Linked DNA regions of Homo sapiens: all the other regions are linked to region 3. The links come from fine-mapping of genetic effects on gene expression. A gene starts in region 3. Each other region holds a variant in brackets. All regions are shown on one strand. Distances are between the middles of the regions. Region 1 overlaps LY75-CD302 (LY75-CD302 readthrough). Region 2 overlaps LY75-CD302 (LY75-CD302 readthrough). Region 3 holds the start of LY75 (lymphocyte antigen 75). Region 4 overlaps BAZ2B (bromodomain adjacent to zinc finger domain 2B). Region 5 overlaps LY75-CD302 (LY75-CD302 readthrough).

Evidence for each region. PIP is the estimated chance that this variant, and not a neighbour inherited with it, causes the effect.
Region 1: its variant is the best candidate, but not a certain one, in a credible set for the expression of LY75 in whole blood (INTERVAL, PIP 0.61).
Region 2: its variant is the best candidate, but not a certain one, in a credible set for the expression of LY75 in cerebellar hemisphere (GTEx, PIP 0.78).
Region 4: its variant is the best candidate, but not a certain one, in a credible set for the expression of LY75 in whole blood (INTERVAL, PIP 0.60).
Region 5: its variant is the best candidate, but not a certain one, in a credible set for the expression of LY75 in whole blood (INTERVAL, PIP 0.71).

The regions. Positions count from the first base shown.
Region 1 is chr2:159,805,511-159,812,060 of GRCh38, reverse strand. LY75-CD302 (LY75-CD302 readthrough) reads left to right here. Exons shown (of 38, transcript NM_001198760.1): 32 at 1,386-1,535; 33 at 3,490-3,612. It overlaps LY75 (lymphocyte antigen 75), which reads left to right. Exons shown (of 35, transcript NM_002349.4): 32 at 1,386-1,535; 33 at 3,490-3,612; 34 at 4,921-5,088. Among named protein-coding and RNA genes, the nearest start is that of CD302, 11 kb to the right of the region's middle. The variant G/A (reference allele first, on the strand shown) is at 3,294.
Region 2 is chr2:159,851,067-159,856,766 of GRCh38, reverse strand. LY75-CD302 (LY75-CD302 readthrough) reads left to right here. Exons shown (of 38, transcript NM_001198760.1): 17 at 1,828-1,863; 18 at 2,232-2,407; 19 at 3,070-3,137; 20 at 3,415-3,494; 21 at 4,427-4,566. LY75 (lymphocyte antigen 75) reads left to right here. Exons shown (of 35, transcript NM_002349.4): 17 at 1,828-1,863; 18 at 2,232-2,407; 19 at 3,070-3,137; 20 at 3,415-3,494; 21 at 4,427-4,566. Among named protein-coding and RNA genes, the nearest start is that of LY75, 51 kb to the left of the region's middle. The variant T/C (reference allele first, on the strand shown) is at 3,062.
Region 3 is chr2:159,900,697-159,907,246 of GRCh38, reverse strand. LY75 (lymphocyte antigen 75) reads left to right here and starts at 2,491. Exons shown (of 35, transcript NM_002349.4): 1 at 2,491-2,658. The coding sequence starts at 2,565. It overlaps LY75-CD302 (LY75-CD302 readthrough), which reads left to right and starts at 2,491. Exons shown (of 38, transcript NM_001198760.1): 1 at 2,491-2,658. The coding sequence starts at 2,565. RefSeq lists silencers at 2,289-2,530, 2,300-2,759 and enhancers at 2,940-3,019, 3,160-3,209, 3,430-3,479, 3,530-3,579.
Region 4 is chr2:159,573,235-159,579,784 of GRCh38, reverse strand. The region is part of intron 1 of BAZ2B (bromodomain adjacent to zinc finger domain 2B); the gene reads left to right. Among named protein-coding and RNA genes, the nearest start is that of BAZ2B-AS1, 39 kb to the left of the region's middle. The variant T/C (reference allele first, on the strand shown) is at 3,980.
Region 5 is chr2:159,774,920-159,781,469 of GRCh38, reverse strand. It overlaps LY75-CD302 (LY75-CD302 readthrough), which reads left to right. Exons shown (of 38, transcript NM_001198760.1): 35 at 472-588; 36 at 1,292-1,465; 37 at 3,506-3,532. CD302 (CD302 molecule) reads left to right here. Exons shown (of 6, transcript NM_014880.5): 3 at 472-588; 4 at 1,292-1,465; 5 at 3,506-3,532. Among named protein-coding and RNA genes, the nearest start is that of CD302, 20 kb to the left of the region's middle. The variant C/T (reference allele first, on the strand shown) is at 3,091.

The DNA of each region.
Region 1 (6,550 bases), 95 kb after region 3:
CAATTGAGCCCAGTGCAACAATGAGTAATCAGCAATATACCTTTGCCCAACCAACTATTTTCATAAGGTGGTAAAAACAAGAACTTACTAGTAACATTTCTTTTCAACAGCAGCATTGATGAGGAGTTGTGAGAAGTTTTATAGATTGTATAGATGAATTTGGCAAATGCATTTTGATCTGCAGCAGCTGGGAAACTTACCCAGGAGTCCAACTGCTGAACTGAAGACTTAGTACTCAAATTGGTGTGTTAGTGAGAAGAATGGAGGCAAAAGCCAATCAAATAACCGAAGTTCAAAAAGATCAAGTCTGGTTTCTAACAGAAGATAGAGAAGCAGCAGAAGGAACTAAGGGCCACTAAAGAGTCTCACAGTAGCCGCCATTCCTCTCTAATCACAGAGACCACAAATAAGGACTCTGCCAAGTGGAGATTTGGAGAAAAAAACAGAAAAAGCCTTTACTTACTGAAGGACATAAAGATCATACAGAATGCATTACAAAACAATAGTTTGGGTTGAGATTACTGACTGGTACCAGGTCAGATATTTGATTCAGATAAGCTGTACCGCACTAATACGACATTGACAATTTACTTTCCAGTTTTCATATGCTCTTCGGTTGGAATTAAAAACAGGTGTTAAAGGGCACAAGCTGCATTCCTCAGGCTGCTTCTGTTACTCAGCACAATTAAAAATCAATTTAAATGGAAACCAGGGGCATTTTTAAGAGCTAAGAAGCCACTCCTAGTCTTTTTTTGTTTGAGTGATGTTGCGGTGCTGATGTATTATGCTTTGTAAAACAAATTAGCTATTTTTAAAAAATAGTTCTTCTTATGACTAAGTAAAACTAGATTTATTTAGATTATCAAAATAAAAAGGAATCCAACGGGCTAGGCGCTGTGGGGTCACGCCTGTAATCCCAGCACTTTGGGAGCCTGAGGCAGGCAAATCACTTGAGGTGAGGAGTTTGAAACCAGCCTGGCCAGCATGGTGAAACTTCGTCTCTACTAAAAAAAATAATAATAAACAAAAAAAGGAATCCAAAGAAAGAAATAATTTTAATTATTATTTCAGAGTACTTTCAGGTCTGCCTGGCCTGTCTTTACTTCTTTTTCTAGTCTGTCTTTCTCATTGTTTCTACTTTAGTCCAAATCAGTCTTAGAAAGCTAAGGCACTTTCCACTTCTATCACCTAGGTTTTTTAAACGGTATTCCAAAAAGTTAATTAAAATATGTATTTATAGAGTGTGGGCTGTGGCTTTCTCTGGTATGAGTTAAATGCTACTCAACCACAAACGCAACAGTTCCAATCAGGGACATTGAAGTAGATTTTGAAAGGCAGTCTTTTTTTTCCATGCATTGTTACAACTGTGTCTAACATTTTTATAGCTAAAAAGCTGTCCCGTCTTACATATTCATCAAGATGTCCAGCAGCAAAAGAGAATGGGTCACGGTGGATCCAGTACAAGGGTCACTGTTACAAGTCTGATCAGGCATTGCACAGTTTTTCAGAGGCCAAAAAATTGTGTTCAAAACATGGTGAGTTAAAATTTGTTGATTTTCTTATGACTCAATAATTTTTAGAAATGTTTCTTAAGGATATAATTTGAAGCAATGATTGTATTTTTGAAAATATTTTTAAAGCACTTTCCATTTCTAATAGCGCTATAAACTAATTGCCCAGTGGTAGGGAAATGGTTAAGTATCTGATGACATAGGAACTCAATGAAATATTGGAATAGCCATTAAAAACGCCTGTAATCCCAGCACTTTGGGAGGCCAAGGCGGGCAGATCATGAGGTCAAGAGATCAAGACCATCCTGGCCAACATGGTGAAACCCTATCTCTACTAAAAATACAAAAATTAGCTGGGTGTGGTCGCACACACCTGTAGTCCCAGCTACTCGGGAGGCTGAGGCAGGAGAATCGCTTGAACCCAGGAGGCGGAGGTTGCAGTGAGCTGAGATGGCACCACTGCACTCCAGCCTGGGTGACAGAGCAAGACTCTATCTCAAAAAAAAATTATCAATGTTAATAATAAGTACATGGAAAATAATAAGTTGGAAGAAGTAGAATTTTAAAGTGGTGGCTGGGTGCGGTGGCTCACGCCTATAATCCCAGCACTTTGGGAGGCCGAGGTGGGAGGATCACTTGAGGTTAGCCATTAAAGACTAGCGTGACCAACATGGCGAGCCCTCGTCTCTACTAAAAATACAAAACTTAGCTGGGCGTGGTGGCGTGCACCTGTAATCCCAGCTACTTGGGAAGCTGAGGCAGGAGAATCACATGAACCAGGGAGGTGGAGGTTGCAGTGAGCCAAGACTGTGCCACTGCGCTCCAGCCTGGGCGACAGAGCAAGACTCCATCTCAAAAATAAATAAATAAATAAAATAAATAATAAAAATAATAATAAATGTAAAATAATAAAATAAAAGTGGCTAAGTGAACTGCTAAGTAAAAATACTGACAAATGATTGGAAACGGTTTTACCTATAGCTAGATATGCTTAGAAAAAGGAATTAAGAGGTAAAATTTTTGTAAAGTTAGCTAAGTAGTAAATAAAAATTATAGTTGTTCCATTGCTTAGTTATTAATACATAAGCTTAGCCTCACCAGGGTAACAAATCAAAGTAGTATGGTTGTCCATCCGTTCTGCAATAGGATTGGCCACATCCTCTGACCACCATAAAGGGCAGTGCTTTTTGCCTTCAGATTTAGCTATTTTAGAAAGAGTAGCAATGATTGGCTCTTTCCCGTGACAAATTTGATCCATAGTCAAACTGTAAAATGACTTCTAGGGGAACTACCTAGAGTATTTCAAAGACCAAAACTTGTTTACCTGCTTCCTTGGGTAGCAAATTAGCCAGGTAGATGGATGGCATTTATCTAATTTATTCTGATAACCGTTGTGGAGACACTTGACTGATTGAAAAATCTTGTAGTTACCGGGAACTTTTGTGTGGGAACCATTCGGTTTTATACCTGAATACACATGATGGAAACTGTTGTAAGATATATGTATGTTTTGAAAGTCATAAACCTTTTTCTCCTAAAGGAGAAAACAGAATGGTTTACTGTAAAACTAATATGTAGGTTAAGCACTTAAGACTTGGAGGCATGAGGGTCTGGGTTCAAATCCCAGTTCCCACATATCCTAGCTAAGTGGCATTGGGAGGTTACACAACTCTTTCTCTTTTCTCATCTGAACAGTCAGAGAGGTCTCAGGGGTAGGCAGTTCCAGGGCCAAAAAAATATTGCCAGATAAATATTTTGAAGAAACACAAAATTTCTTTATAC[G/A]TGTTTGGAAGTAATTTTTTTGAAGTACTTATAAAATTTTGACCTAAATACCAGTTTTTAAAAACTGTCTCTGTGTAAGGCTTGAATTTATCAATGATCTTGTTAATAATATATGTATTTTTCAAATGGCTAGTTGAGAATAAACTACTTCTCTAGTTTCCATAAAGCTAATTGAGAATGTGTTTTCTTTCAACAGATCACTCTGCAACTATCGTTTCCATAAAAGATGAAGATGAGAATAAATTTGTGAGCAGACTGATGAGGGAAAATAATAACATTACCATGAGAGTTTGGCTTGGATTATCTCAACATTCTGTTGGTAAGTGAAATAATTGTATGTGTAGTGTGCAAAGAGAGTTCTAACTCATCCTAAATAACAAGTCGTCCTTGCTAAAGAATGTTAAGTAGTGGCTAATTCAGATGCCTCTTCTGGATAAATAAGCTAGGTCGCTGGCTGTTCTGGATGGTTATAAATTTTGAATGAATCCATGAGTTAACTTAGCAATGACGGAAACCACTAATGACACAGAAAATCCTGTTAAATAAAGTGGAATCTTTCTAGAGGCTTATTTCTGGGATCCTTGGATCAACATCAGGACATTTTCTTCTCCACAGGAATGTCTGTGTCCCCACAAGGAACCCATGCCTGCCTTCTCTTAGAGTTCTAGTGCCTGTCACCGCATGGATTTGCAGCTTATAACTTCGTTATTCAGAAAGTTATCTTCTTGTTATTCCCTTCTCTCTAAGAATATTTTTACCACTGGTTAAAATTATGTCTTAATAGTAATCTTTAAAAACTGTCTTAGTGTTAGGTTGGTGTGAAAGTAATTGCAGCTTTTGCCATTACTTTTGCGCCAACCTATAAAATTGCAGATAATTGATTCAAAGAAAATTTGTGGAAGGATTTTTTAATACGAAATAGTAGATACAGGGTTTAGGTGAACTTGGAATTGGTAGAAATAAGAGTACAAATATGACAGAAGATAAGGTTTTTCACATTTTATGCAAAGTTGAATTTTAAATTATTAAAATGTGAATTTTAAAATGTTAAGTACTTGTCAAAAAATAAAAGGATTCCAAGTTGTCCATCTAAATGAATCCTAAATCGTGTTTACACTGTCACCACAAGGTGGTGCCACTTCAGCTGGAAAGCAAAAATGGAGTCCTGGTGGTGGTGTGGGAGAAAGGTGGGGATGGAGATTCCTGCACCCTTCCTCTTCCACCAGCATATCTTTAATGATATGACTTTTTACAATTAGAGTAGGGGAAGGATATGGGTCCTTAGAAATCTCTCCCTCACAAAATAAATGTGCAAGCATTCTGCACTTTAACGGAAACACCACATTCTCTATCTGTGTTGTCCAATAGAACTTTCTACAAAGACAGAAATGTTCTATATCTGCACTGTCCAATATAGTAGTCACTGGCCACATGTGGCTCTTGAGCACTTGAAATGTGACTAGTGCAACTGAAGAACTGATTTTATTTTTTTCATTTTTAATGCATTTTATTTTAACAAGTGGCTCTCATATTGGACAGCACAGTTCTGATGAGTTACATGAACCCATGCTTGTAACTTACTAGTTTAGTGGCAGTAGACATAGTTGTATTTAATTTCTTTCTTCAGACCAGTCTTGGAGTTGGTTAGATGGATCAGAAGTGACATTTGTCAAATGGGAAAATAAAAGTAAGAGTGGTGTTGGAAGATGTAGCATGTTGATAGCTTCAAATGAAACTTGGAAAAAAGTTGAATGTGAACATGGTTTTGGAAGAGTTGTCTGCAAAGTGCCTCTGGGTAAGTATGGAACCTGTCCTTAGGAGACTTTTTGCAGAACAGTCAGGAAATAAATGTACAATCCAATTATGTACAAAATTCTGTATTTAGTCTTGAAGTATTTAGTCCTTAAAGTATATCCAACTATCTTGATTAAGTCATAGAGATTTCCCCCTGAAAAATAGATTACAAGGGACGATAACTGCACAAGATGTCCAGGACTCCAGTCTACATTTTATATAATTCTTTCCTAAGAAAAACAGAAGTTGCCAGGGTATTAGGGAAGTAATTTCTTTTAAAATGTTCTTGAGATGTATTTTATTCTATAGTTTGATTATATAAAAGCTTAAAGGTCTATTTCTGCAGTTAATTTGCTTCCTTTCTTCCTAATCCCATAAAACTCATGGTTAATTTTAAAACAATGCAAAACTGGATTTAGTTATTGAAAACATTCAGGGTATCTATAAAAAATCATAATTTGAACTTACATTTCATTATGAATTGATACATAAAATTACCATTAAAATGTTATATTAACTTCATTTCTGGAGAAAGAGCTCCAAATTTTTCACAGTAACATTTTTAAAGATCTTGCATAAAACTTTTGCTTCTTGTATATAAATATTAAAGATAAAACCTCAATTCTAGGTAATCAGTATCCATGTATACACACACTGAGACAGTAAATAGAGTGTCTACTATATGCCATGCCCTGTTTTGCACACTGGGATGCACCTGAGAACAAGACAGATAAGGTACCTGTTCTCACAGAGATTACAATCTGGTGAAGAAAGATAAGTAAACAGGTCAATTTTTTAAAGAGAGGAAAATATCAAATAGTTATAAACTCTATGTGATGGAGACTCAGTGGATAGCTACTCTAGATTAGGAAACCAGGGAAGAAGCCTAGAAGCAGGAGACACCGAAGCTAAGATCTAAAAAATCAAGCCAAGCAAACTTCAAGGGAAAGGGCATAACAGACAGAGGTACCAGTTGGAGCAAAGAGCCTAAGGCAGAACAAGTTGGCTGAGCGCTCAGGGAAGAACTGAAAGGTAGGCAGGTGCTAGACATACAGAGCTTTGGAAGCAAGGCTTGAGTTCTGGTTTTATTCTGAGTGGAATGGAAAGCAACTGGAAGATTTGGGGGGTTGGGTGGGAGCAGAGTTAGGGTGTTGCAAATCAAAAGTTCTACGTTGGCCATTTTGAGTTATCCATAGAGGGACGAGATGTGTAGTGTGCATAGCAATGGTATTTAAAGTCATGGAACAGAGCGAATCCATCTGGGCAGTATGCAGATAAGGGTCTTGGAACAGCAGCTGCACTAAATGAACTCATCTGAGAGACTTAAATCATTTTGAAGCAAATAACACTTTATTTAGCCCCAGGTAAGTCAAAAACAAAAATTTATAGCTTTTAGCAATTTGCTATCAAAGTAGGATAATATACAAGTAGTGATGTTCCCAAATTGGTGTTAGGAAGGGGGA
Region 2 (5,700 bases), 50 kb after region 3:
GAATTAACCCACTTAAAAATATAAATCAATTAATCGAACAAATCTAAATAATTCCACCTCCATTATCCCCATGCAGAAATAAAATAAAAAACTAAACTCCTGTTCTCAGCCTGTCCCAATCACTTGAAGAAATCAATGATTGCTTGCTCCAGGGTTTAAATGTTATGTTCACCCTTTTTTGACCGTACTGTACCTAACTTTCTAAGTTACGATGTGATGCATTCAGCTGGTTGGATATTTTCTTGGTTATTAGAGCAGCCTAAGTTTACTCAACTTGTATTCATCTGTATTTTCTGGTTTTCTTAAAGAAGTTTTCCTCTTATGTATTCTAAATCACCATGCCTCTTCTCTGGCTCTTGCCTTTTTATTACTTGGTTCTAATTAATCCTCTCTTCCCTAAAAGAGATATTTTGACAACCTGTAAATTTGAAGTTACCTCAACCACAGTGGATATTTGTACTTTTTAAATATTATTTTTTGAGAAAACTGTGTCAAAAATAAGGCTCATAAAAGTGTTTTTAGGAAAATTACCTATGATGCCATTACCCAGACATAGCAATTTTTATTGTATTTCTTGATACCTTGTACACACATACATGTTTGCAATCTTGTATAAAAAACACCTTGCATCCTACTTTTCTCACTAATTTAAAGATATTTAAAGGTTAGCCATAGCTTTCCCTCCCCCACACACAAATAATCAGAAGTCTTTGACAAGATTACAGACAAGAAACTATGTACATTTTGAACTGACTTGCAACATTATTGTTGGAAATTATCCAATACGAATAGAACTGGCTCAGAGAGAGACTAAAGATGCTGGCTATTCAGGCAGTCCTCTGAGTCAGGTCTTCTGATGCCTGCCTGAGGCTCACATGCCACACCAAAATTAAGACCAGCTATTTTACTCTGTAATTTCTAAGATTAAGCAAATGATGTCTTTGACTTGAAGCCAGTGTGATCTGTGGCCAGAATGAAAAGGGGGAGGAACGCAAATAGGCTCCCATGGGGAACTTCCCTGTGCCTGGTCCTGTGCTGGCCACTTCCTCCAGGGCATCACACGTGACCTTCACTCTCTGTGAGTCAGGTAGCCATCTAGTTTTCATAGAGGAGAAAATCAAGGCTCAGAGAGGGTTAAGCCACTCATCCGAAATACCATGGCAGCAAAATGCATAAGGGCATTTGCACACTGACCCGCCCAGCTTCCAACCCGGAATTCTGTGTAGCATGCCATTATTTACTCCGTTTCCATCTGGGAATCCTGAGTCACTTTTAATTATTTTCCTCTCAGTTTTGTCTCATCTTCTCAAAAGGTTCAACACTGGAGCATTGTACATTGTTTCCAAGGATATCTTGGAAGACAATGAACTCTATCAACCTAAGTTTACAGAACAGTTAACCTGTTTCATTAGATGCAGAAGTGGTTCCTGAATAACTTCCCTTTTCAATGACCGTTATTTTGGTTCCTACTTCTTATGCTTCTGTGTAACACATACAATATCATTATTTACTTGTTTTTACTTTCTAATTCTTAGCTATATTTTATCTGTCTTACTTCTTTTGTGACCTCTGTGACACAAGGTAAAAGACTGCTAGAAATACTTCATTAATATTTAACGTATCTGCCTTTTGGATTTCTCCTGAAGCAGGTTTAGCATCGGCCCTACAAAATACAACTAAAGTGATCAAAACGTGAAGTGGGTTGGCCAGAAATGGACAAGACTCAACAATACTGCAAGTCCTTTCGAGCTACATTAAAGGCCGTACTTATAGTATACCCTGATCTGTCATGGAATACTAATGCCACTTGCTTTCTTCCTCATACAGGCCGTACTCCAAAAACACCAGACTGGTACAATCCAGGTGAGTTAAGAAAACTGAAATTTAACCAAAGCTGCTTTTACCTTGTCACTAATGCATTTAGTTAATTATTTAAGTGCCAGCTTCTTCTCTATACATCTTCAAGTGAGACAAAATTTCTCCAGGCAAGGAAGGTGAGCGACTGGTATGGGATGAGGTGATGAGGGTGACTTTTTCCTTCCCTGTGAGTGTAGGGGAGTGGCAGAGTCACTGGCTCAGGAATCTCTTGTTCCTTGTAGTCAGTACTGCCCCAGCCAGAGAGGGCCGGTAATCTGAATTACTATTTATAGTTTTGAACATTAACTCATGCTTAGAGGACACAGTTTGCTTTGCATAGTCATAATTCTAATCTTTTTCTTCTTCTTCTTTAGACCGTGCTGGAATTCATGGACCTCCACTTATAATTGAAGGAAGTGAATATTGGTTTGTTGCTGATCTTCACCTAAACTATGAAGAAGCCGTCCTGTACTGTGCCAGCAATCACAGCTTTCTTGCAACTATAACATCTTTTGTGGGACTAAAAGCCATCAAAAACAAAATAGCAAATGTAATTTAAAAGAATATATTTTAAATATATTTCTTATTTTTGTATTTATTCCATTTAAAAATATTACAAAAATTTTGCCAAAATCTACAAAAGTTAAATTTTTCTTTAATGTAAAATCTGCCTCACAGCATCCAAATTTGTTTCATGTTAGAAAAATTAAGTAGAATTGCTTATGTTTTAAAATATACAAGATTAATAATAAATGTCACTTTATAAGGTAAACATCAGTAGATAATATAGATCATTCTAATTTCCTGTCACATTTTTTACTAAAAGTCAACTTTATAGTTAACTTGAGTTTCTGTTTCTACTAATAAGTAACTTTGCAAAATAATTTTTGGGAAGAAAAATAATTTCTGTATTTTTAAATTTATAATCAATTGCAATAGGATACTGTATGCCCACTTAAAGTATTAGTCTAATTAATATATGCCCATAATTACAGCTACCATATTTCCTGTACCCACAATAGGATCTGTAAATATACTGAGAAATTTCAACTACTCTTTGGCAAAAGGTTCTAGTTTGTATAATTTTGAAATCTAAGTAAGGAATGTCTGGAAATTTTAGTGGTTAGTGATTATAGTAAGACAATGTATTCGAATCAAAACCCTCAAGAAAGCTCAGCACATATAAGGATGGATGTTTGGCTTG[T/C]TTTTCAGATATCTGGTGATGGACAGAAGTGGTGGATAAGAATTAGCGAGTGGCCAATAGATGATCATTTTACATAGTAGGTGACATCATTGATTCTACCTTTGTAAAGTTATCACTTAAAAGAAGCAGTTCCTTTTACTAAATGGATTTCTATTTATAAGTAGTTTGAATATTAATCCATAAACTGCCTAAATTAGAGAAACCAAGCCCTTTTGCATGTTAGCATCAAGAAAAAAGGGGTATAGAGTAATGGTATTAACATTAAATTTAGAAATAAAATAACTTACAGTAAAAAGAAAAAAATGGAACACCTAATTACATTACGAGTTGTCAAATCTGTCATTTTCTTTTAGCTCACGATATCCATGGCACCGCTTTCCTGTGACATTTGGAGAGGAATGCTTGTACATGTCTGCCAAGACTTGGCTTATCGGTAAAGTTAATTCTAAATCCTTTAATGCTGATTATGTAATATGTGAAGTTCAGGTTCAGTTTCTAGCTTAATCTTGTTTTCCTTTTAATTATATGTTTGGTAATTTCATCTTATTCTGATTTATTATTAGCAACAATAGCTCAAATTCCCAATGCAAATAAAGGTACTTTTCACTGTGAATATTTTAACTTCCTTTATCCTAAAGCAGTTACTTAGTAATAAACTTACCACTTTCCTAACTGATAAGTGTCTAAGCAAATTTTCAAAGATAAGCAGGCAGCAGTTCTAAAATATAGTTTAAGTCCCCTCCCCCTGATTACATTGCCCCTTCAACTCTCTTCCTACCTCCTGCCTTCACCCTGGGATGGTATGGTAGTCACACAAAATGTGTGCTGTTTCATAGACAGTATTGGTATGCTGTAACCTACTGATAAAAATAATCATAGAAGACAGAAATGGCTAGAGAAGAAAGGGAATATATTTTAAGCATTTAGGAAAGATTGATTTCAAGAGCCTTTCTTTACTACTGGGTTGCTTTTAAAATGTGCTGACTTGGCCGGGCACGGTGGCTCATGCCTGTAATCCCAGCACTTTGGGAGGCTGAGGCAGGCAAATCACTTGAGGCAAGGAGTTCGAGACCAGCCTGGCCAACGTGGTGAATCCCTGTCTCTACTAAAAATACAAAAATTAGCCAGGTGTGGCAGCATGCACCTGCAATCCCAGCTTCTTGGGAGGCTGAAGTATGAGAATCACTTGAATCTGGGAGGTGGAGGATGCAGTAAGCCAACATTGCACCACTGCACTCCAGCCCCGGGCAACAGAGCGAGACTCTGTCTCAAAAAAAAAAAAACAAAAAAAAACACACAAAACAAAATAAAAATGTACTGACTGAAAAATTCTCACCATAGTAATCCTGGCTTTTCATTTCTCAGACTTAGGTAAACCAACAGACTGTAGTACCAAGTTGCCCTTCATCTGTGAAAAATATAATGTTTCTTCGTTAGAGAAATACAGCCCAGATTCTGCAGCTAAAGTGCAATGTTCTGAGCAATGGATTCCTTTTCAGAATAAGGTAAAAAGAGAATTGCTACATTATGCAACAATGATTGCTTCCATGCTGGTTTTATAGCCTATGGCAGAATGGCAACCCATTAGTGACAACATCACTGAAATAGACTCTGCATGTTTCAGGATCCCACCTGGCCCTCTGTGTTGCCAGAAACCGTGGATGATATCAAGAATTAACTCTCAAGTTGGTCATGCCTACAGGTCTTTTAAAGTGCAGCATTTCTATTTTGTTGCTACTAACACTTAAATTGCTTAAGTTGATCTGTTGAGGGATTGGGATGCATTGAATAGTCAGGACTGTCTCTATGGCCTTATAGGAAACTGACTTAATTTCTGGCTTGTGTTTTCTTTTTCCCCTCAAGGAGAGCATCCAAGCAGCATCTGCCAATCAAATTAGACCAGCATTTCACAAACTACTTTTTGGGGACTACACACATGCTACAAAATGTTAATCATTGATCTTGCCTCCAAATGGGGGTTTTATGATTAAATAGGTTTGAGAAATGCTGCATTCTGTATCTGCCTCTTTGAGATGCATAATCCATGTTGGTATATGTATGTATTAGGAAATGCATTTGGCTTCTGAAAAGAGGTTGCTACAGTATGAGAAAAGATTTATTCTGTCACATTAAAGACATTTGAAGATAAGCAGGTTTGTGTGGAAACACCATGAAGTCTTCAAAATCAGGCTTCTTTTGGTTTTGCTCTGCCATCCTTAATATAAGGCTTCCGAGCTTAAATTCAGGGTGTTCTCTCTAGGGTCTTTTCTAGAAGTTACCCGATGAGTTTGTCCACATTGGGTAGCTTGGCTCATTGGCCACTCCAGTCTATAAGAAAGCTGAAAAAAAAATTTTTTTTGTAAGATATTTCAAGGAACACAATTTGGGACATACCACTCTACACTAAAGTGATCATAATGTGAAAAAGGGAAAAAAGAGATGTGTCTGACAGCTGAAAGCATCTGTAGTAAAGCTAGGGGTACATTTTAACTTTTTAAAATTAGGACAATCTTTTTAATTCCTCAAGGTAATAGTACTGTGTTAATTTGCATAGCTGATATAAATTTGAATTAAAATATCCTGCCAAGAAAGAGATGAATTTTTCAACAGTGTTTCTTGACATAAGGAGATGATGATTA
Region 3 (6,550 bases):
GCTTTTTGTCTTAGAGTTTTCTTTTTGTATCATGGGCTTCTCTGGGATTCTCATGAAAGCCTTGTACCCTTCCTCCTCCTCCTCAAAACATAGTGCATTTATAAAGCTGCATAAAATTTCAGGGTTTCATAATTTCCCTTAAGTAGCATTTAGGAGCTCCTGCTATATGCAAATAGCACTGAAAGGATTTGAGTAGAAAAGTGGCATGTTCCAAACAGTGTTTAGAAGGATTCATTTGCCAGAGAGGATAATAACTGTTGGCAGTGAGGTCAATTGATAAATTATTGCAATATAATGCAAGTAGGAGCTCATATGGCCCTAGGCTAAGGTGGTGGCCCTAGGAATCCATCCATCGATTAAACTAACATTTATTGAGAGCTGACTTTGGGACAGGCCCTGTGCCCAGTGTTGAGGATGTGATAATGAATACGGCAAGACCACTGCCCTCAAGGAGCTCCAAGCTGGGCAGGATCAGAAAGAAAGGCAGGCAGCCACAGAGGCAGAGGGGATCAGGTCAGTGGCAGGTTCTCCTACTCAGAACTTCCCACCATCTGTGCCTTAGAATAAATTCAAGGCCCTTCACAAAACAGACACAACTCACCTTTCTGCTGTCATTTCCACTGGGGCCCCCACCACAACCACTTTGATCTCTCTCACAGACACACCCCCCGCAGGGCAGCTACCCTGGACTCTGGACTGTCTTCTGACTCTGCTTGCATTTTCTGGCCTCTGCCCTGTCACTGGTTTTCTCCCACCAGCTGTGCCTGCTCAAATTCCTACCCATTCTTTAAGACCCAGCTAAGATGTTGCCTTCCCTCAACATTTGTCAGAGTTTCCCCATTCATTCTGCCCTGTGTCACTGAGTGTGCCTGTATTAGGGTTCTCTAGAGGGACAGGACTAATAGGATACATGTATATATGAAAGGGAGTTTATTAAGGAGTATTGACTCATATGATCACAAGGTGAAGTCCCACAATAGGCTGTCTGCAAGCTGAGGAACAAAGAAGCCAGTCCGAGTTCCAAAACCTCAGAAGTAGGGAAGCCAACAGTGCAGCCTTCAGTCTGTGGCCGAAGGCCAGAGATCCCCTGACAAACCACTTTTATAGGTCTAAGAGTCCAAAAGCTGAAGAACCTGGAGTCCGATGTTCGAGGGTAGGAAGCATCTAGCACGGGAGAAAGGTGAAGGCCAGGAGACTCAGCCAGTCAAGTCCTTCCAACTTCTGCCTGCTTTTATTCTAGCCATGCTGGCAGCTGATGAGATGGTGCCCACCCAGACTGAGGGCTGGTCCGCCTCTCCCAGTCCACTGTTAATCTCCTTGGCAACACCCTCACAGACACACCCAGGAACAATACTTTGCATTCGTTCATATCAATCGAGCTGACAATATTATCCATCACAGTGCCTCAGTCTCCCCAGTATTCAGGGGAGGGCAGAGATGTTGTCTTTTTGTCCTTCTGTTCCATGGCGTGCCCAGATCCTGTGATGGCAGGTGCTCACTATATCTATGGAACTGAAAGGCCAGACCCTGGGGAGAGGACAGAGCAGGTTTGGGAGCCAACTGTGAAACCTTGGCAGTGGGAGTCAGGAAGAGCAACCTAGGTCTTTGCATCCTCATGCAACAAGGATGGAGGCCACCTCAAGTACACATTATGTGCTCAGCAAAGACGAGATTTAAAAGTATAAAACATTCACATTTGAGCAACTTAGGTCATTAAGAATTTGGCCTCTTTATAATGATAGCAGTGTCCACAGGAAGAGAGTGAGTGGGACATGAAATTTCTGGTTCTGCATGCAGACTTCTACATTTCTACCAGCTAATTATTATTATCATTAAATTATTAAGCAAAGAGCTTACTCGCAAAGGTCAACTTTTTATAAAGCATAAGTCATCCTTGGAAGTGTCGTTTGGTCATTCTAGTAATTCTTGCTTTTAATTCTTTAACAACTATGGGTAGAACTGCAGTGTACCATTATTCCACCTTTGTTTGCACTGTCAAAATACCCAAGACGTTGCCAAGGACGACTGAATTCTTAGGCTTGGCCGCAGCCACCCACAGGGCAGGTGCTCACTTCCTCCTCCGGGGTAGAAGAGATCATGGGTCCCTTTCCAGTCCAGGCTGGAATGGAGAAGTCGTCCCTGACCACAGTGCGCCAGGCAGAGGCCAAGGTTCTAAACTGATAGAACCCACCCACCAGGGCGGTGCCAAGTCCCAGTAAGGGCCGCATCTCCCCAGCTTGGCTGATGAAGAGGCGGGGACCGAACCCTCCAGTGCAGGAGCCTGTCTGGTGCCTGGCTCTCCCACCGATCCGCACGTACCTCTTCCTCGCGGGTCCTACCCCACGCAGGTATCTAGCGCCCAGCCCTGTTCATTTCCCACACCTGGCCCGCTCCGCCCCGGGGCCGAGGAGACGCACGTCTGATTGGCCGAGGGCGGCGGGGGCGGGGCCGGGGCGCCCCCAGAGGCCTAGACAGAGGTGCGGGCGGGGCAGGCCGCGCTCAGCAGGCGGGGCGGGAGCCGCGTGCGCCCGAGGACCCGGCCGGAAGGCTTGCGCCAGCTCAGGATGAGGACAGGCTGGGCGACCCCTCGCCGCCCGGCGGGGCTCCTCATGCTGCTCTTCTGGTTCTTCGATCTCGCGGAGCCCTCTGGCCGCGCAGGTAACCGCGGGCACGCCAGCCCCGCAGTCCGCTGGGTGCCTCGACGCCACAGCTCTGCTGCCTTCCAGCCTGGGGCAGGGCTGCGCCCCTGGGGCAGGTCACGGCTGCTTTGCTGTTGGGGCGGGGGGGCTCTGGAGCCGGAAGAGTGAGTCGCAGGGGAGGTCTGGCAGAGGAAGCGCCCCAGTGCCCTCGGGGGCCCGGAGGAGGGCGCGGTGGATGTGGGAGGACAGGGCCCTTCTGGTGCAGAGGGGACGCGGTGCACCGTAGAGTAGGCGCACGGAGGCTTTTTTGGCCGGGTGCGCTGCTCCATCGTCGCCTCTCTTATATAATGTTGCTGGAGTATGGGGTTCCCCATCTGCCCTCTTGCGTCCCGTCCCTCCCGTTCTCGCTTTTCCTTCGGCCCTTGGTCACCTTGGCCACAGGGCCAAGAGGAGCCTCCACCCACAGCGCCAAGGATTCCCCACGATTCCCGGATTTCACTGCGCCTACGGTGCGCATCAGGAAGGAAGTCAGGTTAAATAAACCATCTCCTCCGAAAGTGACCAAGACCAAGAGTCAGCTATGATGCCCTCACCCACCGCCTAGAGCAACAAACCTTTCTTCTCATTGGTTTATCAGCTCCAAATGACCCCGCTCCCCCAAGGCTGACAGCCTCACGGTGAAGGGCAGGTCGCCTGCTTGGGGACCTGCTGCCTCTCACTGCGGAAGCAGGACCAGAAACAGACAGCCTTCATTGATGTTCAGGGTAGTGCCAGCCCCACCACACCACACCCCTTGGCAGCAACCGGTTGCTTTTACTTTCTCTTTTTGCCTGGGCGAGGGGTGTGCAGAGAACTTTGTTTCTTGGTTGGACTGCATCATGGGCACTCAATGGGCCACCCTCCACCGGCCACTTCTGTTATCGTGCCTGTATGAGGAAGGAAAAGATTGTCCAGGCAGTTTGAAAAACATTAAATTGTTGGTGGCTCTTATTTTCTTTGCAGCTAAGCTAAGTTACCATCTGGTTTAGACTTCCTTCGGAGAGCGATGGGAAGAGATTTCTCAGAGTGTGAATGGCATCATCCTATCTACAGCAAGGACCTGGAAATGAACCCTGCTCTGAGTCACACTTCTCTATTCTCCTTTGACCCTGTGTGCTAGGAACTACCAAAAGAATCCTTTAAAATAAGATCCTTTATTGCCTTGATAATTTATTCTGCCTGCCCCACAATCCAAGGTGGAAAAGTTCACTGCAGCAACTAACTACAGTGAAAATGCACTAACTTTTCAATCACTAACCTCTTGGTTCCCATCGACATCTGCTTCAGTCCTGTTTTTATCTCCTTCACAAATTTCAGGATTTCCCTAATTCTTGCAATCTCTGCAATCACTGCCCTTTATCACTGACCCAAAGCAAAAAGCACCAGGTTTAACTCTGTTCCCCCTGTGCTAGGTCCCCACAGGTTTTGTTATCCTGTATCCTTCCTTACTCCTAGCAGCTACTCTGATCGATTTTCTCTCACCCTCAGAGCAGACTTGTGGCCTTGTTTGGGGAAGCACTGGAATTTTGAACCCCCAGCCATTTGGGTCAATTGTTTGGCAAGAGTGTCCGCTTCATGATGCTGGTGATGGCATGCACCTCGTCACATGTGCACGGCTAGGCTTGTGCAGGTGGCCTCTATTACCCAAACACTGAAGGAGCCCCTCTGTGTCCTTGGAGAGATGCCAGGTGCTTAGTTTACATTTTTGCCTGCTTGGAGAGCTAACAGCTTGAAGTAAACCAATCCATCAGGGACTCCTGAGGTTTTCACCAGCCAACACCACCCAATCGTGCGTGAAGACTTTCTGACTCCCTGGACATTGCCATGGACTCAACTGTCACTTCAGGACCTGTTTTTGAACTAACAAACCTAGACTTCTGATTCTCTCTTGCTGCACCTACCTGTACATTCCGAACACATGGTAGAGACTCTACAAAATGCTTAATATGTGATCTATGGACGGTTCCCCTGAAATTATAAATGCTGCCATCTTCATCCTTCTTGTTTTCCCAAGCTATTTCCCTATCCATTTGTCTGTGGTTATAAATGTCAATATCCAGCTTCTCTTTGGAATGTGTGAAGCTCTTTGGTCTAGGGACCAAAGGCAGGAATTATTTAGTGATCAGACAATAAGAAAACACTGAAAGAGATGATTTGCCTTTGATGGATGTAAAAATACTAAAAATTTATTTTCAATTTATGGTAATGCTACTTAGCCATTTTCTCTCAAACACCACTGGAGAATTTATATAACATGAAGCATATACAAAATGCATCTAGGGGGTAATGAGGCTTCTCTTCATCAACTTCTGCCTTTTAGATTTGCCCCAATATTGTACTTGGAGGTAAATATTAAAACTCCATTGAGGACTGGTATAAAGTTGTAAAGTGAACAAAACCCAGTAGAAAGCTATTGATAAAGAATCTATTTTATAAAATAAGTTTTATACAATAAAATCTACTCTGTAATTACCTTTTCAAAGTATATTTCTAAAATAGCTTATATGCCCTTCTGTACCAAATTTTCTAAATAAGGGATTATGTTCACACTTTCTCAGTCCTCCTTCCAGCTCTTCAACCTACTATCCCAATAAGGGTCGTAAGACTGAGGCAGTTTCAACAGCTCCTGCTAAGGTTAAAGAAAGATACGGGGAAGCATCATGAAAGGATAGGACTCTCCCTATCTAATGTATGTTTATACATACCTTATATATGGAGGCTAATAAGTTTCCTTTAAGTATATCAATAATTAAGATCTGTACTAAGTGACCACTATAAGTGTCACATTGAAATTGCATACTTGGTTCAAACAAGGGATTAGTCTGAGAAAAACATCTATATTCAGAGATGTAGCAGTTTGTTAGGAAGTTTGGCAGCTCCACTTTAACATAGCTACTCCACACCTCTCCTGTAGTGTTTTAGTGTTTCAATCTCGGACTCCTAACTCCTGCTTTTTCCACTGTATAAAGAAATGTAGCTAATCCATTGGATTCTACAAAAATTTTGAAAAATCCAGAACTGCAAACTGCAAAGGAAGGCAAAGCTGCTGCTTCCCCAGTTCACCTGTTTGGGATCCAGCACACAAAGCAGAATGCCCGGGAAAGACAGCAGCAAGACTACAGGGCAGGAGAGGGGCTGTTTCCAACAAGGGTGATGGGCACGTCTCCTGCAGGAGCAGACTTCTTTTTTCTTCTGTAATTTTTGATACTTTGGAATGCAAGATTTATTTTGGAGAGGCAAGAGAGAATACTTTGGAAAAGATGTAGATCAGAGATCTGAGTAGCTATTGAATTGTGGGAGAAGGCCATGAGAGAAAGTGTGAGTAGTAATCTTATAGCACATTTTCCTTTTTTGTTGACTGTCTTCCCAGCCTGTGTCCATCAAGTAGAAAATGGCAGAGGAATGTCAAAGAAGAAAGTGTGAGGGATGTGGCTGGGCACGGTATCTCATGCCTATAATCCCAGCATTTTGGGAGGCCGAAGTGGGTGGATCACCTGAGGTCAGGAGTTCGAGACCAGCTTGGCCAACATGGTGAAACCCCATCTCTACTAAAAATACAAAAATTACCCGGGTGTGGTGGCAGGCACCTGTAATCTCAGCTACTTGGGAGGCTGGGGCATGAGAATCACTTGAACCTGGGAGGCGGAGGTTGCAGTTAGCTGAGATTGTGCCACTGCACTCCAGCCTGGGCAACAGAGCAAGACTCCATCTCAAAAAAAAAAGTGTGAAGGATGAAAGCTGCTATGGCAAACATCCTTAGCTGCAATCCTGTGGAATACTTTTAAAATTCAGATTTAAAATAACTTTAAGCTTTAAAGGATTGTTGTTGCTGTTGTTGTTTCTCTTGTCGTTGCTTCTGTTATTTAAAACAA
Region 4 (6,550 bases), 330 kb after region 3:
TACATTTATTGATTTGTGTATGTTGAACCAGCCTTGCATCCCAGGGATGAAGCCAATGTGATCGTGTTGGATAAGCTTTTGCTGCTGGATTCAGTTTGCCAGTATTTTATTGAGGATTTTTGCATCGATGTTCATCAGGGATATTGGTCTAAAATTATCTTTTTTTTGTTGTGTCTCTGCCAGGCTTTGGTATCAGGATGATGTTGGCATTAAAATGAGTTAGGGAGGATTCCCTCTTTTTCTATTGATTGGAATAGTTTCAGAAGGAATGGTACCAGCTCCTCTTTGTACCGCTGGTAGAATTCGGCTGTGAATCCATCTGGTCCTGGACTTGTTTTCGTTGGTAGGCTATTAATTATTGCCTCAATTTCAGAGCTTGTTATTGATCTATTCAGGGATTCAACTTCTTCCTGGTTTAGTCTTGGGAGGGTGTATGTGTCCAGGAATTTATCCATTTCTTCTAGATTTTCTTGTTTATTTGCGTAGAGGTGTTTATAGTATTCTCTGATGGTAGTTTGTATTTCTGGGGGATCGGTGGTGATACCCCGTTTGTCATTTTTTTATTGCGTCTATTTGATTCTTCTCTCTTTTCTTCTTTATTAGTCTTGCTAGCGATCTATCAGTTTTGTTGATGTTTTCAAAAAACCAGCTGCTGGATTCATTGATTTTTTGAAGGGTTTTTTTGTGTCTCTGTCTCCTTCAGTTCTGCTCTGATCTTAGTTATTTGTTGTCTTCTGCTAGCTTTTGAATTTGTTTGCTGTTGCTTATGTAGTTCTTTTAATTGTGACGTTAGGGTGTCAATTTTAGATCTTTCCTGCTTTCTCATGGGCATTTAGTGCTATAAATTTCCCTCTACACACTGCTTTAAATGTGTCCCAGAGGTGGTGGTATGTTGTGTCTTTGTTCTCATTGGTTTCAAAGAACATCTTTATTTCTGCCTTCATCTCGTTATGTACCCAGTAGTCATTGAGGAGCAGGTTGTTCGGTTTCCATGTAGTTAAGCGGTTTTGAGTGAGTTTCTTAATCCTGATTCCTAGTTTGATTGCACTGTGGTCCTAGAGACAGTTGTTAAAATTTCTGTTCTTTTACATTTGCTGAGGAGTGCTTTACTTCCAACTGTGTGGTCAATTTTGGAATAAGTGCGATGTGTTGCTGAGAAGAATGTATATTCTGTTGATTTGGGGTGGAGAGTTCTGTAGATGTCTATTAGGTCTGCTTGGTGCAGAGCTGAGTTCAATTCCTGGATATCCTTGTTAACTTTTTGTCTCGTTGATCTGTCTAATGTAAGCATTTTTAAATCATTCCTTTGTTGAGGGACATTTTGTTTGTCTCTCATTTTGGGAAACATTGGGTTATACAGAAGTATTTTCTGTTCTGCATTATGGATCTCCAAAAAGGGCAAAGGGTGTGCACAATTTTCTGAACTTATTTTACCATAGAACTTTTCTTTTTTTTATGAACTGTGAATTTTTCAAAGAGTGTATTGTATCACTGATCCTCCATTAAAAGTATTTGAAGCTCTTGTCAATCTTCTTGTTTTACTTATAAAATTAAGAGTTAGTAGAAAATTGAAACCACAGTCTGTTTCTTGACTCTGTTGTTCAGTGTTGTTCCTTTTGCTTTGAATTTTTGTCTTCATTTAGTACTCTTTCCTGAATTCAAATAAGAAAGCTAAGCACTAGAGTTTTTATAAGGGAAAAGAACAGTTTTCATGTGTTCATACTAGGGAAAGTTAAAGTTTCTATGTCTTTAGGTTTTTCTTTTTGTCAGCAGGTGATATCTTGGTAGGTAATTAATGACAAGTGAAAACAAGTGAGGTTTCAGACAATTTGATGTAGCTTTCTTTAAATTACTTAAGTCCTCTAACATAAATGAACTAGTTCTTTTCTCATGTTGAATAATTCTTTTAATTACTTTAAGAATAGCTTGAAAAGCAGTATTATAAGTTTCAGTGTGTTTAGTAAGTTTCTTAGCTATTTCTTTAGCCTTTCTCCTTCCCATTAAGGTACCTACTTTTATTTCTTGTGGTGTATAAAAGGACTTTGGTCAATCTAAACTGAAGCAGATACGTTTTAAGATAGAGATATTCTTGAGTCTTGTCACATAATTGTTATTATTTTTCATCTTTCCCTAGGCTGTCAGGTTTCTCTAATCTTAGGGCACATTTAAAGTATTTTTCCTCCCTAACTGAACATTTGCTTGGATCAAGCAGATCATTTTGTGTAGTGAAAACAATCATTGGACCAAGAACTGGTATCCTCTTTTAGTTCTTTGTTTTTCAAATTTATTTAAAGAAATCAAAATAGTTTTTTTCTGATTATAAAGGTAATGCATACTTACAGAAAGTGTAACTAATGCAGAAATAATTTTTTAAAGACAGTTAAGTCACTTAAAATTCTACTATTTGGAGCTAACCTCTTTAACGTGGTAAATGCTCTTCCCTGTAAATATACACACACATTTATAAAAATAAGGTCATACTCTACTGGTTTGTAATTTTCCTTTTTAATCAATAATATGTTTTGGAACATGTTATTTTTTAAGTAAATTTGTTTTAGAGATAGGATCTCACTCTGTCACCTAGGATGGAGTGCAGTGGTGCCATCATGGCTCACTGCAGCCTTGACCCCCTGGGCTCAAGTGATCCTCCTGCCTCAGCCTTCCGAGTAGCTGGGACTAGAGGCATACACCACTGCACCCAACTAATTTTTAAAATTTTTTGGAAAAATGAGGGTCTCACTGTGTTGCCTAGGCTGCTCTTGAACTCCTGGGCTCAAGTAGTCTTCCAACCTTGTTCTCCCAAAGGGCTGAGAATACAGGTGTGAGCCACCGTGCCTGGCCACACTTTCCTTTTTTTTTTTTTTTTTTTTTTGAGACACAGTCTCACTCTGTAGCCCAGGCTGGAGTGCAGTGGCGTGATCTCGGCTCACCGCAACCTCTGCCTCCTGGGTTCAAGCGATTCTCCTGCCTCAGCCTCCCAAGTAGCTGGGACTACAGGCATTTGCCACCATGCCCGGCTAATTTTTTGTATTTTTAGTAGAGACGGGGTTTCACCATGTTAGCCAGGCTGGTCTCGAACTCCCGACCTCGTGATCCACCTGCCTCAGCCTCCCAAAGTACTGGGATTACAGGTGTGAGCCACCGTGCCTGGCCAAAACTTTTATACTTGTTACTGAACTGCCTTTCAGAGTGGTGGTATCAATTTACACTCACTCTAAAACTACCAATTCTGGGTTCTTTTTTTTTTTTTTTTAAACCTTTGATAATCTGATTGGTGCATGATGATAACTCAAATTTGTTCAAATTTGCATTTCTCTGCAAGATTTAGTTTATTTTCATGTATTGGTCAGCTTTATTTCTTTCTTATTTATTTGTTCGTTTTTATTTTTTGTAAAGACGGGGTCTCACTTTGTTGACCAGACTGATCTCTTTTATTTTTTTCTGTAAATTATCTGTCAACATCTTTTGACCACATCGATGTTATGCTGTTAGAGCTTTCCATATATTTATTTGTGTAATCCTCACAAGAATTCTTTTAGGTGGGTATATTTGTTCTACTTACAGTTGAGGAAACTGAGATGTGACTCAGTAACTTGCCCAAGATTACAAAGCTAGTGTATAGTAAATCTAGGAATCAAATTCAGATTTCCCTTACTGATTCTTAGTAAGAGCAGCTAGGTTTAGTTGACCTTTTAAATAACATTGTGGAGCTAATTTATATTCTTAGTAATGTTGTGAAGCTGTTTGTTTCTCAGAAATTCTTTAAGTTTCTAAATCTTAAAGGAAAGATATTTTACTAATGTATGTGAATTTTGGTCCTAGCATTTTAGGCTGCTGTTTGTAGAATTGAGCTTTCTGTCCTCCAAACTTCATGTAGTCTAAAATGAATGAAGGAAAACATATAGATTCTTAGATTTTCTAAGAATGTATTTTTGGAGATTTCATATTCAATCATGTTAAAATTTTTTTCTTTTGAAAA[T/C]GATATTCTTGAGTACATACTAGTATCACTTCAAGAGTTTTATAATCATGTTAATGGAGTACATATAATCATGCTTTTTGTGGATTTTGACCTATTATTCCAATTTCTAGTCTACCAACATTGTTTTGACTCTTCAAATTTTAGAAGTGAGTGATCTAGGGTCTCCATTCCTCACTTTACAGGTTAGGAATCTTAGAGAGGTTCAATAATTAAGTAGTGGCAAATACTGTGGTCCAACCTTAAAAGCAGTTGTAATTTCATTTGGATCATTTGGGTGTTGACTTCTTTGGAGGCAAAGGTTTGTTAAGCCTTCTCAACTTAATGAATTCCTCCATTTACCTTTATATCCCTAATATTATAACTCTTTATAACTCTGTGTCTAGAAGATGGTAAGCCCTTGATACATGCCTGTTGAATTGACTTCACTTCTATTTTTTATCCAGTATATTTTAACCTCTTTCAGGCTATCTACTCTCCCTTTCTGCATGGTTTTTTTTCTTTGGGAGGCAGAGTGTTGCTCTGTCGCCCAGGCTGGAGTAACCCTGGTATGAATGAGGGAAGGTCCAAAAGGGTCCTGAGCATAGAAGCATAGGACTCCCTGTGGAGTCATTCTCCATTTCCTGTTCCCCCAACTCCCATTACCCACTATCCTACTTTCTCTCTCTATGGATTTGCCTACGCTGGACATTGCATGTAAGTGGAATTATACAATATATGGTTTTTTGTGACTGGCTTCTGTCATGTAACATAATGCTTTCCAAGTTCATCCTTGTTGCAGCATGTATTACAACTTCATTTTATTTTCTTTTTTCTTTCTTTTCTTTTCTTTTTTTTTTGAGATGGAGTCTTGCTGTGTTACCCAGGCTGGAATGCAGTGGTAGGATCTTGGCTCACTGCAGCCTCCGCCTCCTGGATTCAAGCGATTCTCCTGCCTCAGCTTCTTGAGTAGCTGGGATTACAGGCGCATGCCACCATGCCCAGCTAATTTTTGTATTTTTAATAGAGATGGGGTTAGGCTGATCTCGAATTTTTGACCTCGTCATCCACCTGCCTCAGCCTCCCAAAGTGCCGGGATTACAGGCGTGAGCCACCGCGCCCAGCCTTCATTTCATTTTCTTACCAAATAATATTTCATTGTATGAGTGTGTCATATTTTGTTTATCCATTTATTATTTGATGAACACTTGAATAATTATGAATAATGTTGCTGTGAACATTCATGTACAAAACCTACATACGTGTAGGTTTTTTTATGGACATATGTTTGTAGTTCTCTTGTGCATATAACTAGGAATGGAATTGCTGGGTGACATAACTCTGTTTAACTTATTGAGAAACTGCCAAAATGTTTTCTAAAGTGGCTGCAATGTTTTGCAATCCCACTGGCATTGTGTAAGGGTTCCAGTTTCCCCACATCCTTACAAACACTTATTAGGTTTTTTTTGTTTTGTTTTGTTTGTTTGTTTGTTTTTTAGCCATTCTAGTGAGTGTGAAGTGCCATCTCGTGGTTTTGATTTGCATTTCTCTGATGACTAATGATATTGAGCATCTTTTCTTATGCTTATTGGCCATTTGTGTATCTTCTTTTGATAAAATATCTATTCAAACCCTTTGCCCATTTTAAAATTGTGCTGTGTGTGTGTGTGTGTGTGTGTGTGTGTGTATGTGTGTGTGTGTGTGTGTGTCTGTCAGTCTCTCCATCTGTCAGGGTCTGGGTCTCACTGTGTCATCCTGGGTAGAGTGCAGTGGCACATCATGGCTCACTGTAGGCTCAACCTCCCAGGCTCTAGGGATCCTCCCCCTCAGCCACCCAAGTAGCTGGGACTATGGGCACATGCCAACACACCCAGCCAATTTTTATATTTTTTTGTAGGTAAGGGATTTTGCCATGTTGCCCAGGCTGGTCTTGAACTCTTGGGCTCAAGCGATCTACCTACCTTGTCCTCCCAAAGTGCTAGGATTATGGATGTGAGCCACCTGTGCCTGGCTGTGTTGTTTTTAATTATTGAGTAGTTATAAGTGTTTTTTAAAAATATATTTTGGATACAACTGTCTTCAGATATATGATATACAAATATTTTCTTCCATTCTGTAGGTTGTCTTTTCACTTTCTTGATAGTGTCCTTTGAAGGACAAAAGTCCACGTTATCTATTTTTCCTTTGATTGCTTGTGCTTTTGATGCCATATCTAAGTAAACATTGCCTAATCCAAGGTCAAGAAGATTTACGCCTTTATTTTCTTCCAGGAATTTTACGTTTTTACCTCTTACGTTTGGGTCATTGATTCATTCTTAGTTCCTTTTTGTGTATGGTGTGAGGTAGGGGTCCAGTTTCCTTCTTTTACATGTGGATATTCAGTTGTTCCAGCACCTTTTGTTGAAAAGATATTCTTTCCCCATTGAATTGTTTTGGCACCCTTGTCAAATATCATTTGACTGTACATGTAAGCAAGGGTTTGTTTCTTGAATCTCAATTCTATTCTGTTGATCTAAAGGTCTAGCATTAAGCCATGCTACTCTGCTTTGATTACTATAGCTTTGTAGTAAATTGAAATCAGAAAGTGTGAGCCTT
Region 5 (6,550 bases), 130 kb after region 3:
TCCTGCCTCAGCCTCCTGAGTAGCTGGGATTACAGGTGGGTGCCACCAGACCCAACTAATTTTATTTTATTTTATTTTTTTTTGGTAGGGACAGGATTTCGTCATGTTGGCCAGGCTGGTCTCAAACTCCTGACCTCAGGTGATCCACCCGCCTCAGCCTCCCAAAGTGCTGGGATTACAGGCATGAGCCACCACGCCCAGCCCCTACAACTATTTTCCATCCCTTAAAAAAAATTATGTAAAGTATACTGAGACATAAACATAATTTCAATGACATAAATCATATTAGAGGCTGAGAGCCAAGACATGTCCCTGTAACCTTATTAGCTTGTATGAACTGTAAGATCAAAGTTTATTGTCCAGCTCTAATATATATAGAAAGTTAAGCAACTATTTATTATTTTTATGTACCTAGTGATTTTCACTGATTCTGGAATATGCTGACTTTTTTTCTCTTTAAAATAATTTCAGGAGCGGACATGATAAGCATACATAATGAAGAAGAAAATGCTTTTATACTGGATACTTTGAAAAAGCAATGGAAAGGCCCAGATGATATCCTACTAGGCATGTTTTATGACACAGATGGTAAGTGATATTTACCTCGTGGGACGTGACTTTGTTGTTCTTTTTTTAATGTAGCAAAACTGATGGCTTTTCAATTCTCTGGTTCAAGTTGATGATTCCTGTGGCCTCCAGGTGTTAAATTTTCAGTGTGCACCTATGATCATACCACAGCTTGTATCTGCATAGCTCAATGAGTTACACAGATGAAAGCCACAGTTGATTCTTGTCTGGATTAAAATGTGGCTCTAAGGCTCAGTATTTTTGTAATATAGCATGATCATAAAGGTAAGTATTAGTGTCTGCAACTAATAGGCTAAGGATAGACTAAATTATCACGGTTCTATTATATAAACATATTTATCATTACTGTAGACAAAGTACATATGTACAAATATAAAAGTACATATGTAAACATTTTCAAATGAAATGAAATTACTAAGGTTACTATTAATATTTAACTATTTTTCTTGACTTTTTTCCCATGAGAATATTATACATGTATATATTTTTGCGAAAATTGGATCATCTTCAGAAACCTCTTAAATCGATAGCTTTTGATGATTTGGCTGTACACAGGATATATTCCTCCTTCTAATTTTAATCCTACAATCAGAAGTTTAGACCAGACATACCTTAGTAACTTTCCACCTTTAATCCTACACCCTTTTTGGCTTGAACTCCTTTTAAAACTGTCATAATGTTGAAAATATTCCTTAATTGACAGATGCGAGTTTCAAGTGGTTTGATAATTCAAATATGACATTTGATAAGTGGACAGACCAAGATGATGATGAGGATTTAGTTGACACCTGTGCTTTTCTGCACATCAAGACAGGTGAATGGAAAAAAGGAAATTGTGAAGTTTCTTCTGTGGAAGGAACACTATGCAAAACAGCTAGTAAGTATGACCGAAGGTGTTTTTCCATTCTAGAAGGGGCAGAGAAAGTAGGACTGGTTTTAAAATAATTTTGAGATAAGTGTGCCTCAATAAATAGAATAAGGCTAGGCACAGTGGCTCACGCCTGCAATCCCAGCATTATGGTAAACTGAGGCACTGGATTGCTTGAGCGCAGGAGTTGAAGACCAGCTTGAGCAACATGGCGAAAACTCATCTCTACAAAAAATACAAAAATCAGCTGGGCATGGTGGCGTGCACCTGCGGTCCGAAATACATGGGAGCCTGAGGTGGGAGGATCAATTGAGCCTGGGAGGTTGAGGCTGCAGTAAGCCTGGGCAACAGAGCAACACTCTGTCTCAAAAAGAAAAAAAAAAATAGAGGGAATAAGACTTCAGAATATATTAATAGGATGGTTTGCTCTTAAGTCTCTTGGAACTCAAATTGTAATTCTCTTACATTTAGGAGGTAAGGCCAGATCACATGAAATAGGCATACTTTTATTCTGTCTGCTTAGTGTTTCCAAGAGGTCAAAAATTTCTTGTTCAGAGGAATTATTATAATCTCTTTGCATGTGATTTGAGTGAGCAGAAGTGGTGAAGAGTAATCATGTATAATTCCAGAATTCTCGTGTTACTTTACAAGGAATTAGATTCTCCATAAGAACATCCTTTGTTTAGGCAAACAAAAACTACATCATAGTTTATAATTTATTTGGAATTAAAATGTTTTCTTCTGACCCGTCAGAAGGTTTTTTTTTTTTTTTTTTTTTTTTTTGCGATGCAGTCTCTCTCTGTCGCCCAGGCTGGAGTGCGGTGGCGCGATCTTGGCTCACTGCAACCTCTGCCTCCTGGCTTCAAGCGATTCTCCTGCCTCAGCCTCCCAAGTAGCTGGGACTACAGGCACCCGCCACCATGCCCGGCTAATTTTTGTATTTTTTAGTAGAGATGGGGTTTCACCATATTGGCCAGGCTGGTCTCGAACTCCTGACCTTGTGATCTGCCCACCTCAGCCTCCCAAAGTGTTAGGATTACAGACGTGAGCCACTGTGCCCGGCCCAGAAGGTTTTTTAATGAACAGAAGTTATCCTGGCCCACAACAGTATTTTGATGTTATTTGTTAAAACACTACACAGTTTGTTATTCTAAGTTTTAGAAAGTAACTGTTTTCTCATTAAAGAAAATTAAATTTTCAAAATGTGGGCTGGGTACAGTGGCTCATGCTTGTAATCCCAGCACTTTTTGAGGCTGAGGCAGCCTGGGTCAACATAGCAAGACCACCATCTCTACAAAAAAAGTTTTTAGTTTTTTTAATGTTTCAAAATATGAATTTAGGGTGCTTAAAACATGATATAAACAACCATTTCCCCATTTTGCATCCTCAGTATTTTCCCCTTCTACTTCAACTGTAAACCAAAACTCCACATCCTGCTTTATTTCCTTTCTTTACATATGGAAGTATGTACATTTCTTTACTTGCTACAGCAGGATCCTTGACTACTGTTAGTTTTACAGTGATTATCAAAATGTTCGTCATAGTTTTATGGTAGCAGTATTCAACTTCAAATATTTGTTTTTTAAAAAATTGGTTCTTTTCAGGTTCTGCACCTCAGGGTGCCATTACATAAA[C/T]AAAGTTTTTAATTAAACTATAACTTCAAAACATCAGAAATAGTGAGTACATCCATACTAAGGTAGTTAGGGTCACAGTTGTTTAATTTTATGACATTTGTTTTCTAGACTCTCCAACCAGAATCCTCTTTTTTCCTTTACCTCATTATTGTCTTTTCCTCAAGATCCCGTATTCTTTTCCACCAACCAAGCTAATGCATGTTGTTAGCCCTCTACATCTTTCTTTAAAAACTAAGTTCAAAATAGACAACAGAGACAACTAATGAGGCAAAGAAATATGGATTTTAGGCTATGAATATATTGATATTAAGCTACTAATAAAAGGGTTTATTTTTAATGATTGTGAACATGTTTAAAGTCAATCCTATAATAAAGCATAATTAAATTCTAATTTTTATTTTCTTTTGTATTTTAGTCCCATACAAAAGGAAATATTTATCAGGTAAGTAATGATTTGGTCTTTAAATTTTTCCCACAATTAAAAATATATCAAAATTCTGGCATATTAAAATACATTACAGATCCCTTTTTAAAATTATGTAATATAAAGTAGAACAATTTTTATAAGAATGTAGAAAGGTCTCTTAGTAATAAGACTCAACATTTTAAATATATTCTACAATATGTAGTTTTGTCTGGCTTCTTTTACTCGGGAATATTTTTTTAGATTCATCTGTGTTGTGCACATTCACTGAATTTTTTCCCTAAGTGTCATAATACTTTATAAATATATCATATATTGTCCATTCTCTTGTTTATGGATATTTGGATCACTTCTAGTTTTAAACTAATTTGAATAGAACTGCCTATGAACATTCTCCCACATCTTCTTTTGGACCTATGTTCTCATTTTCTTTGAGTATATTCTAGAAAGTAGAAAGCTGGGTCATAGGGCAAGTATATATATTTAGATTTATTAGAAACCACCAAATAATTTTTCAAAATGCTTGAATCATGTTACTACTGGCAGTGCGTCCAAGTTCCATTTGCTCCATGTTCATCCCATGATGGTATTGTCAATTTATTTTTAGCCATTCAGATCAGGTGTGTAGTGATCTTCTTGTGGCTTTAATTTTCATTTACCTGATAATGATGTTGAGCACCTTTCAGATGATTATTTATTTGTATATCTTTTGTGAAAAGGCTTTTACCCATTTGCGGAGTGCAGTGGTGTGAGCTTGACTCACCGCAGTCTTGACCTCCTGGGCTCAAGCGATACTTCCACCTCAGCCTCCCAAGTAGCTGGGACTACAGGTGTGGGCCGCCATGCCCAGCTAACTTTTTTTGTACAGATGGAGTTTCACCATGTTACCCAGGCTAGTCTCAAACTCCTGGGTTCAAAGGATCCACCCGCCTCAGCCTCCCAAAGTGCTGAGATTACAGGCGTTGGGCCGCCATGCCCAGCCACCCATATTTTTTTTGAGTTGCCTATATTTTTGGTAGGAATTTTTAAAACAAATTTTGTTTCTTTAAATTTGGATATGGGCCGGGCTAAATAATACAAAACTTAGCCGGGCACGGTGGCGGGCGCCTGTAATCCCGGCTACTTGGGAGGTTGAGGCAGGGAGAATTGCATGAATTTGGGAGGCGGAGGTTGCAGTGAGCCGAGATCACGCCACTGCCCTCCAGCCTCGGCGACAGAGTGACTCCATCTCACAAAAAAAAAAAAAAAAAAAAAAAAATTGGATGTGAGTCCTTTGCCAGTTTTCTATTTGGGGGTTACTACGATAGAACTATGACAGAGGAGGAGAAAAGAAGTGTTGGGTTTGTGTGTATACAGGAATTACATCCTCATTAATCTATAGGAAGAAGACAATAAATAACAAGCATTAGTGTGGATATGCAGCAATTGGAACTCTTGTGGTAGGAATGTAAAATGGTGCAGCCTCTGTGAAAAACAGTGTGGTGGTTCTTCAAAAAAAATTATTAAAAGAATTACCGTATGATCCAGCAATTCTGAGTATGTATCCCAAATAACTGAAAGCAAGGACTCTTTAATATCCGTACACCCATCTGTTTGATATTTGTGTATCTATGTTCATAGCATCATTTGCCATAGCCAAAAGGTGGAAGCAACCCAAGTGTCCACTGATGAAGGGATAAACAAAATGTAATCTGCACATACAACTGAGTATCATTTAGCCTTAAAAGAGAAGAAAATTCTGACACGTGCTACAACATGCATAAACCTGAAGGACATTAGGCTAAACAAAATAAGCCAGGCACAGGCCGGGCGCAGTGGCTCACGCCTGTAATCCCAGCACTTTGGGAGGCTGAGACCGGTGGATCACCTGAGGTCAGGAGTTTGAGACCAGCCTGGCCAACATGGCGAAATCCCGACTCTACTTTAAAAAAAAAAAAAAAAAAGTTGAAACCCGGAGGCAGAGGCTGCAGTGAGCCGGGATCACTCCACTGCACTCCAGCCTGGGCGAGACAGAGCAAGCCTCCATCTAAAACAAAACAAAACAAAACCACCACAAAAAAAAAAGAAAAATAAGCCAGTCATAAAAGGCCAAATTCTGTATAATTCTTACCTATAGTATGAGGTACCTAAAGTAGTCAACCTCACCAAGAAACTCTTTGCCAAGGGTTAGGTCAGGAAGAAATGGGAGTTTAATAGGTACAGTTTCCATTTTACAAAATGAGTTGTTCTGTGAATGGATGGTGGTGATGTAGCACAACGAAGTGAATGTACTTAATGCTACTGCACACCTAAGATGGTATTTGTTACATGTATTTCTTTAAATTACATTTTTAAAAAATCAAGCAGCGGAAGCATGTTATTTAGACATGGAGACAGATAAATAGCTGAAGCAACAGTAGTAGTTAACTTTAAGGAATGGATGTTCAGGTGAGTAGTGGAGCAGGAGCACAGTATTTTCACTACGTATCTTCTAGAACTATGACTTTTAAGCTACGTAAATGTATTACTTTGGAAAAAATAAAGATACACATAAGTTGGAACATTTAGAAAAAAATAGGTCTGTGGCTTCAAAAACGAATAGTTGAAAGATCTGGCAACATATGGTCTTCAGACTACAAGAAAAGTAATCTCTGAATTCATTACATGTATGCATGTATATATGTGCATGTAAATCTGTATTAAATATGTGTATGTAATTTAGTGAGTAAACACTATGTGTCAGGCTTTCTCCTAAAGTTAGACATTGAAGACAGAGCAATGAACAAAACAAAAGCCTCTGCTCTCAAGCATACATTCTAGTGGGAAGGGTAAAACAAAACTATGTGAGATGGTGACACATCCTATAGGGAAAACAGGCAGATAAGGATGAATTCCAGTGCAAGAAGGGAGGTGTTGCACTTTATTTTTATTTTTAGTACAGTGGCCAGGGAAGGCCTCATTTAATAAGGCCATGATTTTGCATAATGAAGACCTAAAGTCAAAGTGAAAGCCTGTCATGTAGATAGGGATTAGGCTTAGTCTGACTTTAAGGAGTAA